Regions from separate parts of the Homo sapiens genome. Here region 1 is linked to region 2. The links come from fine-mapping of genetic effects on gene expression. A gene starts in region 2. The other region holds a variant in brackets. All regions are shown on one strand. Distances are between the middles of the regions. Region 1 overlaps SPAG9 (sperm associated antigen 9). Region 2 holds the start of ABCC3 (ATP binding cassette subfamily C member 3).

Region 1 (4,388 bases), 420 kb before region 2:
AACATAAACTCTGAAAACATTCAGGGAAAGGAAGCCTGAAGGGGTTTAACCTTAACCTTTTCACTATTATTTCCAAAGAAGATAATGTCTTTTAATAGTTGTTTAGCACTTTTATGAAACACATTCATTGTTGCTTAAGGGAAACCTACCGTGGCTTTTTAAAATTTGATTTAAGAATAACTATTCTTAAATTTAAATAGTCAACTATTCTTAAATCAAATTTTTGTATACATTACTGAATTTGCTTAAAAGACATGCCTTAAAGAGGGCAGTGGAAGAAATATAAAGGACAATTTTGAAGCACTCGGGCCCACATGTGTATGCTAATCACCAAAAACTTTAGCCCTTTGGAATCTTGGGAGAGTCTCACATCAGGGAGTGTTTGAATGCATTCTCATTTTATCCTTTGACCAAATTCTCATCCATTCCCATTTTACAGATTGAGGTTTAGAAAGAGTCTATAAAATGATTTGCCCCAAATTCTAGGCTAGTTAGTGACTAGATTTGAAGCCAGGTTTGTCAGATTCTATTGCCTGATTTTTTTTTAAGAGGGAGTCTCGTTGTGTTGCCCAGGCTGGAGTGCAGTGGCGTGATCTCGGCCCACTGCAACCTCCGCCTCCAGGGTTCATGTGATTCTCCCACCTCAGCCTCCTGAATAGCTGGGACTATAGGCACATGCCACCACGCTCGGCTACTTTTTGTATTTTTAGTAGAGACTGGGTTTCACCATGTTGTCCAGGCTGGTCTTAAACTCCTGGCCTCAAGTGATCTGCCCGTCCCGGCCTTCCGAAGTGCTGGGATTACATGTGTGAGCCACAGCACCCAGTCTCCCTGAACTTTTAATAACACTAACACCTTGGCCGAGTGCAGTGGCTCACGCCTGTTATCCCAGCACTTTGGGAGCCGAGGTGGGGGGATTATCTGAGGTCAGGAGTTTAAGACCAGCCTGGCCAACATGGTGAAACTCCATTTCTACTAAAAATACAAAAATTAGCCAGGCATGGTGGCAGGCACCTGTAATCCCAGCTACCTGGGAGGCTGAGTCAGGAGAATCGCTTGAACCAGGAGGTGGAGGTTGCAGTGAGCTGAGATTGTGCCACTGCACTCCAGCCTGGGTGACAGAGCAAGCCTCCGTCACAAAACAAAAAAACACACTACACCTTTAGTTCCACTAGACATTTTTCTTTTCCCTCCCTCCCTCCCTTCTTTCTTTTTCTTTTTGTTTTTTTTTTATTTTTAAATTCTCTTTCTTCCTTTCTTTTCTTTCTTTCCTTCCTTCCCTTTCCTCCCTCCCTTCGTTCTTTCCTTTCTTCCTTCCTCTCTTTTTCTCTCTCTCTTCAGTTGTTTATTGCTGAATTGACTCCTGAATGTGTGAATTAATATGCATACCTGAGAAAATTGAGAATTGCAGTTCTGAGACCAGAAGCAATGGACCTGGTGGACCCAAGAATAGATTATCTGAAGCGTGTCCTATTTTACTTTCTCACTTCTCTTTTCTGTCTAACAACACTGGTGCTCCCTCCCACTCACTTTTTTTTTTTTTAACCTGAGTGATACTGTGAGGCCTTATTAATATTTAAATTGTTATGTATAATTTTTGTTCTTTTTTGTGTGTTTATAGACTATAGTGCATATCATTTTATTCCAGACATCAGGAAATGCTTTAGGGTATGGGATTTTCTTGTGGGTATGAGGAAGAAAGGACAATGGGCTCATTGCCTGCTCAGAGAATTAAGTACAAAGGCGGCCTGAGTCCTGTAATTCTTAATAACTCAGATGACTGAGTCAGGCAGGCCAGAGTTCTGGCCCCAAAGCTAGTGACAACTTGAAAAGTTAGTCATTGACCAGACAATCAACTTGGAGTTTACCTATGAAATCATGATATGGTGAGGATTAAATGGAGAAAAAATGGCTGTAACTGCACTGACTGACTTATAATTGGTGCTCAATAAATAATAGCTGCCATTTTGTTGTTATTGTTCTCTCTTTTCTTTTCCCCCTCAGTCATTTTTGGTTGTCAGTTCTTTCCTTTAAAGTGCTAGTTTGGTTGAGTTAGAATTGATTTCATTATATAGATAATTTTGGAATGTCAGAATACTATATCTGTAATTACATTGGACTAGTCATTAAAAGAAAGTTTAGAATAAGATAATAGAGAATCAGTCTGTAGAATGGCTATTGGGGGAGAACTATTTTTGCATTTTGCTTGTCATTCTTTTTCTATATTGAG[T/C]TCATAGATTACTATACAGCAATCTGGGGTGAGTTTGTTTTCTTCATCTGAATGCTTAAGGAAACTTAGGTCCTCCATTTGAACAAATCAATCCCATACATACAATTACTTTACTATCCAGTGTATATAAGAATTCACGGCTGGGCGCCGTGGCTCACACCTGTAATCCCAACACTTTGGGAGGCCAAGGCGGGTGGATCACTTGAGGTCAGGAGTTTGAGACCAGCCTGGCCAACATGGTGAAACCCCGTCTCTACTAAAAATACAGAAATTAGCTGGGTGTGGTGGCGGGCACCTGTAGTACCCAGCTACTTGGGAGGCAGAATCGCTTGAATGTGGGAGGCAGAGATTGCAATAAGCCGAGATCGCGCCACTGTACTCCAGCCTGGGCGACAGAGTGAGACTCATGGTTCACTGCAGTTTTGATCTCCCTGGCTCAAACGATCTTCCCACCTCAGCCTCCCAAGTAGCTGGTACTACAGGCGCATCCCAAAATACCCAGCTAATTTTTAAAAATTTTTTTGTAGAGACAGGGTCTCCCTGTGTTGCTCAGGTTGGTCTCAAACTCCTGGGCTCAAGCAGTCCTCCCACCTCAGCCTCCCAAAGTGCTGGGATTACAGGCATTAGCTACTGCACCTGACCTCTTTTATTTTTAAAGTGGTTTTTTTTTTTGAGGGGTCTCATTCTGTTGCCCAGGCTGGAGTGCAGTGGCATGATCATAGCTCACAGCAGCCTTGAACTTCTGGGTCCAAGCAGTTCTCCCACTTCTGCCTCCTGAGCAGTAGGGACTATAGGCGAGTGCCTGCTAGTTGTTGTATTTTTTTTTCTAGAGCTGGTGTCTTGCTGTGTTGCCCAGGCTGATCTCAAATTCCTGGCCTCAAGCAAACCTCCTACCTCCCAAAGTGCTGGGATTACAGGCGTGAGCCACTGCAAAGCCTTAATTTAGGCCTTCTAAAACCTTTTGAAAATTTAAATTGAGATTGATTAAGCCTGACAGTCACTTTGTTATATTAGTTTCAGTTTGATTTTTGTTCCTGAAAATTCTTCCTGACACAAGGAAGCTCATTATTTCTGACTTGCTGATAGATGAAAGGTGTATTTCTCCAAAACTGTTGTGTAAATGGTGGTAAAATCTATAAATTTAAAATAAAAAGTATGTCAATTAAAAAATTTTAAGATACTATATTCATGTGATTCTGTTTTCATTCTTTGTGGATAACATTTGTTGTTTGGACTAGTCTTCATTGAGGAACAGTCTGGTTAATTTGTTTTATTTCATGCATCAGAGTTCAGCTTTTTGTTTATTTGATGATAAATAACATCTTAAAATTAACTTACATTTCCTAATATTTGTACATGCCAAATAAAATTTCTACAACAAAAGCAAGCTTTGTAAAGTGAATTTAAACTTTTTAAAAATTTTATTTTGTTACTTAATATGCTACAGTGCATATTTTAAGTTATAAAGAGATTGAAATGCATCTTAATACAGCTAAAGTTTAGTGACTTCCAAAGCTATTCTATGTACAGCGTTAAGAATTCAAGTAATATTCCTTAGGAATGGTGAGAAGGGACATTAAAAAAAAAAAGAATTCAAGTAATATTCCCAAGAAAGACATCAACCTTTGCTTGCCTCTTAATATTTACACCCTTTAAATACTAACACACTATTTCTTGTTTTTTAAAATTCATTTTTTTCTTATTCATATCATGTTAGTATCTCTAGCAAAGGCCTTTTGATTTTATGTCTTAATTCCAAATTTAGGCTTTTTAAAAGTGAAACTATATATTATCAAGAATCAAATAGGACATTAGAAGTTCTTGGCAGTTTATGTACTTTATATTCTTGAAGTTTTTACTTTCTTATTCAGCTTGTCTGTCATATGATTCCTTATCTAAGACTCAAAAAGTATTCTAATTTTTTACATTTGTATTAATTTGCTGCTGTTATAATAGATGATTATACCAAGTAATGATACCAGTAACAGTCAAAGGAGAAAGTATTTTAACATTCTTTCAACTAAATATACCGAAAGAAGAAACTTTTCTTGGTATTAAATTAATTAAATTGAAAGTGATCTTTATTCTGTTAATTCCTTTTAAAATGGAAGAGATCAGCACATAAGGATATGGTTTCTTCAGAAGTTTCACATTAATT
Region 2 (4,388 bases):
TTCAGGAGGCTACCCAGGAACAATGAGCCCTTGTGCCTGAAGCTTGGGCACAACTACCCTCTTGATTTTCTGTTTGGCATCCCAGGCACCACAAACCTGCCACGGTCATACCAGCCTGGCCCAAAGGGCAGTGAAAGGAAGTGTGCTCATGAGGCAAAGGCACAACCTCTGGACCCTGGTGGCAAGTGGCCTGTCCATGCTGAATAATACATGAAGTTCCTGTGGGACTGGGAAAGAAGGGCAGTGGCAGAGAAGTTGCACCATCTCGGATTAACCTTTGGGTCACCCACAGAAAAAGAGAGAATCCCAAATATGCCTTTTTACAGTTTTTTTTTTTACCTCCATTGCCCCAAGTTTCAAAAAATCCATATAACGCCTTCAGCCCATTCTAAACACAGCCCAAGAGCATAGCTCCAGACTTATACACCTGTGCACACACGTGCACAGCACGAACTCTTGGGTAACACCCCACGTGCCTGCGTGTGTGCGTACACACACAAAGGGCATATATGTACAAATACTCAAAATAGGAAAAGACTTAGAGATTGGGATTCACAAGCCCTGGACACCCCTTTAATGACCACAGAGAAGCACCTTTAATCTGAGCTCCCTCTGTAAAACGGAGACCACATGATCACTTGCCTCATAGAGGCAAGTAAGTTTTGCAAGTTGGTAAGAAAGCTCCTAGGCTGTATGCACTTAGCTCACCTGAACTGTGCTGGAGGCTGGAGTCAGCAGGCTGAAGAGCAGCCTGTCTTAGAAAGAGATTTGGAGTGAGAGTCACCAAAGGCTTGATTTTCTTTTCTTATTTATTTATTTTTTTAGAGACAGGGTCTCACTCTTTCGCCCAGGCCACAGTGCAGTGGTGCGATCATAGCTCACAGTAATCTAAAACTCCTGGGCTGAAGTGATCCTCCCACCTCTGCCTCCCAAAGGGTGGGATTACAGGCGTGAACCACTGCACCTGGCCTGTAGCCTGTTTTTCTATCCCAGCTCTGCCTTCATTGAACTGGGTAACTTTGGGCAAGTCCCTTCCTCTCTCTGGGCCTCCCTTTCTCCATCTGTGAGAAGGGAGTTGGACTACAGGAATCCTGACACCCTGCACCTGTCTCCAGACTGGGGTCTGCTTCTCCCTTCTGAGTCCGGAGTGGTGGGGATGGCCTGCTCTCAGACCTCAGTCTTACCTAGAGAAAAGAAGGTGGCAGGAAACCTTCCTAAGAAGGGTGGGACACTGCACAGCCGGCCTCCCAAAACACCTGGTTGAGCAGGTGCTCTGGATGCCCTGGGGGCAATCCATGCCCAGGTGGGCAACCGAGTCCTAACCTGAGGCAGATGCTGAGGGAAGACCCTCCATCAGGAACCCGCGGCTGATTGCGAAACGCCCCTTCCGCACCCGACGGAGGGGCTGGGATGGAGCCGACTCACCCAGCCACGCACTGTGCCTTTGCGCCCCAGCCGCGCACTCTTCCTCACTTTCCCGGGCTCCCCAGTGCTGCAGCCGGGAAGGGCAGAGCAGGGCAGGTCCCCGACACCGCGTGGGACCCGGCTCCGGGCGGCGCAGCCAACCTCCCTCCCGAGCCCATCGCCCCCTCCCGGGCGCCCAGGCCGTCTCAGGGGCTCCGTCCCGGGATACCTGCCGGCCCCGCGGGAAGGCAGGCGGCGGGGACCGGGCGAAGCCGGCCGACCCTGGCCCCCGCGCAGTGACCCCGGAGCCCCGCGCCTTACCCAGAACTTGGAGCCGAGCTCCCCGGAACCGCACAGGGCGTCCATGGGGCCGAGGCGCGGCTGCAAGGAAGGCGAGCGCGGTCGGACCCAGCGGCGGGCAGAGCGGGCGCCGGAGCCGCCTCCGCCCTCCGCACCCCGCGCTCCGCCCGGACCCGCCCTGCCGAGCCCTACCCCAGTGCCTCTGGGTCCGGTCTCCCTGCCCCCGTCCCGCGGGTTGCGACAGCGCCTCCCTGGGAGGGACTTTGGGGCAGAGGTGGGGGGGCCCTTGGCACGGCGACAGCCCCTGCGAGCGGCCCCTGGGCCAAGCCAGGGGGATGTCTCTCTAAATACCGAGGCTAACAGTCCAGGAGTCGAGTCTATTTCCAAGGGGGAACTGGGATACACAGGCGCTCCCACTCCCGAACAAGTCCGTGGGGCCGATGAGTCATTGAGTAGGGGACGTAGGGAGAGGGATTTAACAATCTTTCCTAGTAAAAAAGGAATCTTTGAGAAGGTCACGTTCCTCTCCGGAGGTCAGTTTCCTCATCTGTAAAATGGGAAGGGCTTCTGTGCTCAATCAGGAAGCTGACCTCTTCCCCATCAGGTTCCAGAGACCACTGGCAGGCGCCACACGGGGAGCACACGGGGTGTGCTCCGCGGGTGTGTACCCGTGAGGCGGGGGTGGGGGCCGCAGCATCGTCCAGCGGGGGCCTCTTATGTCCTCTTAAACTGCTGCCCTCTTAGGCTCTGTGGCTCCCTGACCTTGCCACATCACCTCGGCACGTCTCTGGGCCTCTACTTTCACATCCGTAAAATAGAGACAATCATAGAAGAGAATCTTCCTCCCAGGGTTCTCTGAGGATTGAATGGAAAGGGTAGGCAAAGCGTATTTCCTGGCACACTTAGTGGGCACCCAACATGTGTGAATTCCCTCTGCTTCAGCCTGATCAGGGTTGGGGGGGGAAGGACAGGTGAAGCCCCAGGAGGAGCCCCACGTGAGTGTCCTCGTCCTCGTCCTCCTCCTAAGGCTGAAACTCTACATTCCTGATCTGTAAAATGGGCTTGTCAGTGCTCTCCTTCTCCTGCTTGCCTCAGCTCTCCTTCTCCCGGTATCCCCTCAGATGCGGGGATCCCTCCATCTCTCAATCCCGCTGTTGCCCTGTCTTCCTTAACACAATCCCAGACGCCAACTCAGCACCGCTTGTTGGGGCTCAGAAGGAATTCTCCCTGGCAAATCTTTCCCTGGCCCTTCTCTTCCCTGCCTTTGCCCACAGGTCTGTCCAGTTTCACCCCGGTGACCCCTTTTCTGGCCCTTGTTCTCAAGAGAAGGTGTTTCCTTCCTTGGCTGCTCAGCGGCAGGTGTGGGTGGGAGCCAGTAAGAGTGCAGAAGGGGCAAGCCACCTCCTATCTCTCTGGGCAGCCAGGAGGTCACTAGAAGGGAAGTCTCCTTGGCTATAGGCTATCAGAACCAAGATCTGGCTGGGCATGGGATAGGGGTGGGAGTGGAGAAGATTCCCCTTTCCCAGGCAGTCAGACCAGGGACTTCTACCCCTCCACTGGGCAAGTTCTTTCAGCCCCTTCTTTGTCTGCCCTCTTCCTTTCCACTCATCCACACATACCCTCCCTCTCCTGTCCCCCTACCTTCATCTCTGGGCAAAATACTTTACAGAGCTTTACACCTTGTTACGGCGTGCCTTGGATTATATTTAGTTATGAAGAGTCTGTCTTCCCTGCTAATCTGAGAGGTCCCCAAGGGCAGGGACTAACTCAGTCCCCTCCAATCCCCCTCCATACCTTTTATACACTGTGTGATCTCAATAAGCTCCTTGATGCCTCTGGGACTTCATTTCTTGAGAAACGTGGACAGGGTGATATCTAAGCTCTCTTCCAGCCCTGGTGGGCCAGGCTTCTATGGCCTAGGCAGCTGGGAACCTTCCTCCACCCCTTCCATGACCCTGGTCATGGCTTCATCAGCACCCACTGCCCCTGTGTTTTGACCTTGTCTACCCACCGGCTTCCTCCAACTCTCCCTCCTCTCCCATTCCTTTTCTAGGGCTTGTGGGGTCATAGGCACCAGATTGCTCTGGGCTTGAGGAGACCTGGGGACTTTCCTTTAGGGCCCTTTGGGAGGTGAGCTCCCCAATCAGACCTCCTTTCTGAGATGGAGAGCCCAGAACTAGCCTGAGCTTCCGTCCGGGACTTTCCAGCCCCACAGTTGGCCAGGCAGTGCACTGGCTGGAGCTCTAGTTTTGGGCTAGGACCCTTGGGTTCTGGCTTCAGCATCGGAGCTGAAGCACCATCCCTTGCAGCCCCAGGCTTTTCTATCGCTATTGCTTTCCCAAGGCTATAGCACTGGGTTGGGCACTCTGAGGGCGTGGTGGGGGCCCTTAGCGATCCTCACCTTCCCCCATCTCTCTTGAGGTATTGGGGCTTTACCCCTCCAGGCCACTCAGGAAGTGTGTCCCCTTTCACAGAGCCCTTGAATAATAACCACAATATTTCTAGGATGTTATTGTTTTGGTTGTTCTCACCAGAGCAAGAAATCTGAGGCCCTGAGACACCCTACAGCTTGCTCAGCGCCACAGAGCTTATCCCAGCACACGCAGGAGGCGCCCCACGTCTGCCGAGGAGACTGTTTCTGCGCAGTCTCCTTGAGCGGGATGCACTTCCTGTATCTGTCTTCA

The links. PIP is the estimated chance that this variant, and not a neighbour inherited with it, causes the effect.
Region 1: its variant is the best candidate, but not a certain one, in a credible set for the expression of ABCC3 in subcutaneous fat (FUSION, PIP 0.66).

The regions. Positions count from the first base shown.
Region 1 is chr17:51,047,878-51,052,265 of GRCh38, reverse strand. The region is part of intron 3 of SPAG9 (sperm associated antigen 9); the gene reads left to right. Among named protein-coding and RNA genes, the nearest start is that of SPAG9, 71 kb to the left of the region's middle. The variant T/C (reference allele first, on the strand shown) is at 2,231.
Region 2 is chr17:50,632,319-50,636,706 of GRCh38, reverse strand. It overlaps ABCC3 (ATP binding cassette subfamily C member 3), which reads right to left and starts at 1,826. Exons shown (of 31, transcript NM_003786.4): 1 at 1,726-1,826. The coding sequence starts at 1,770. RefSeq lists a silencer at 1,807-1,856.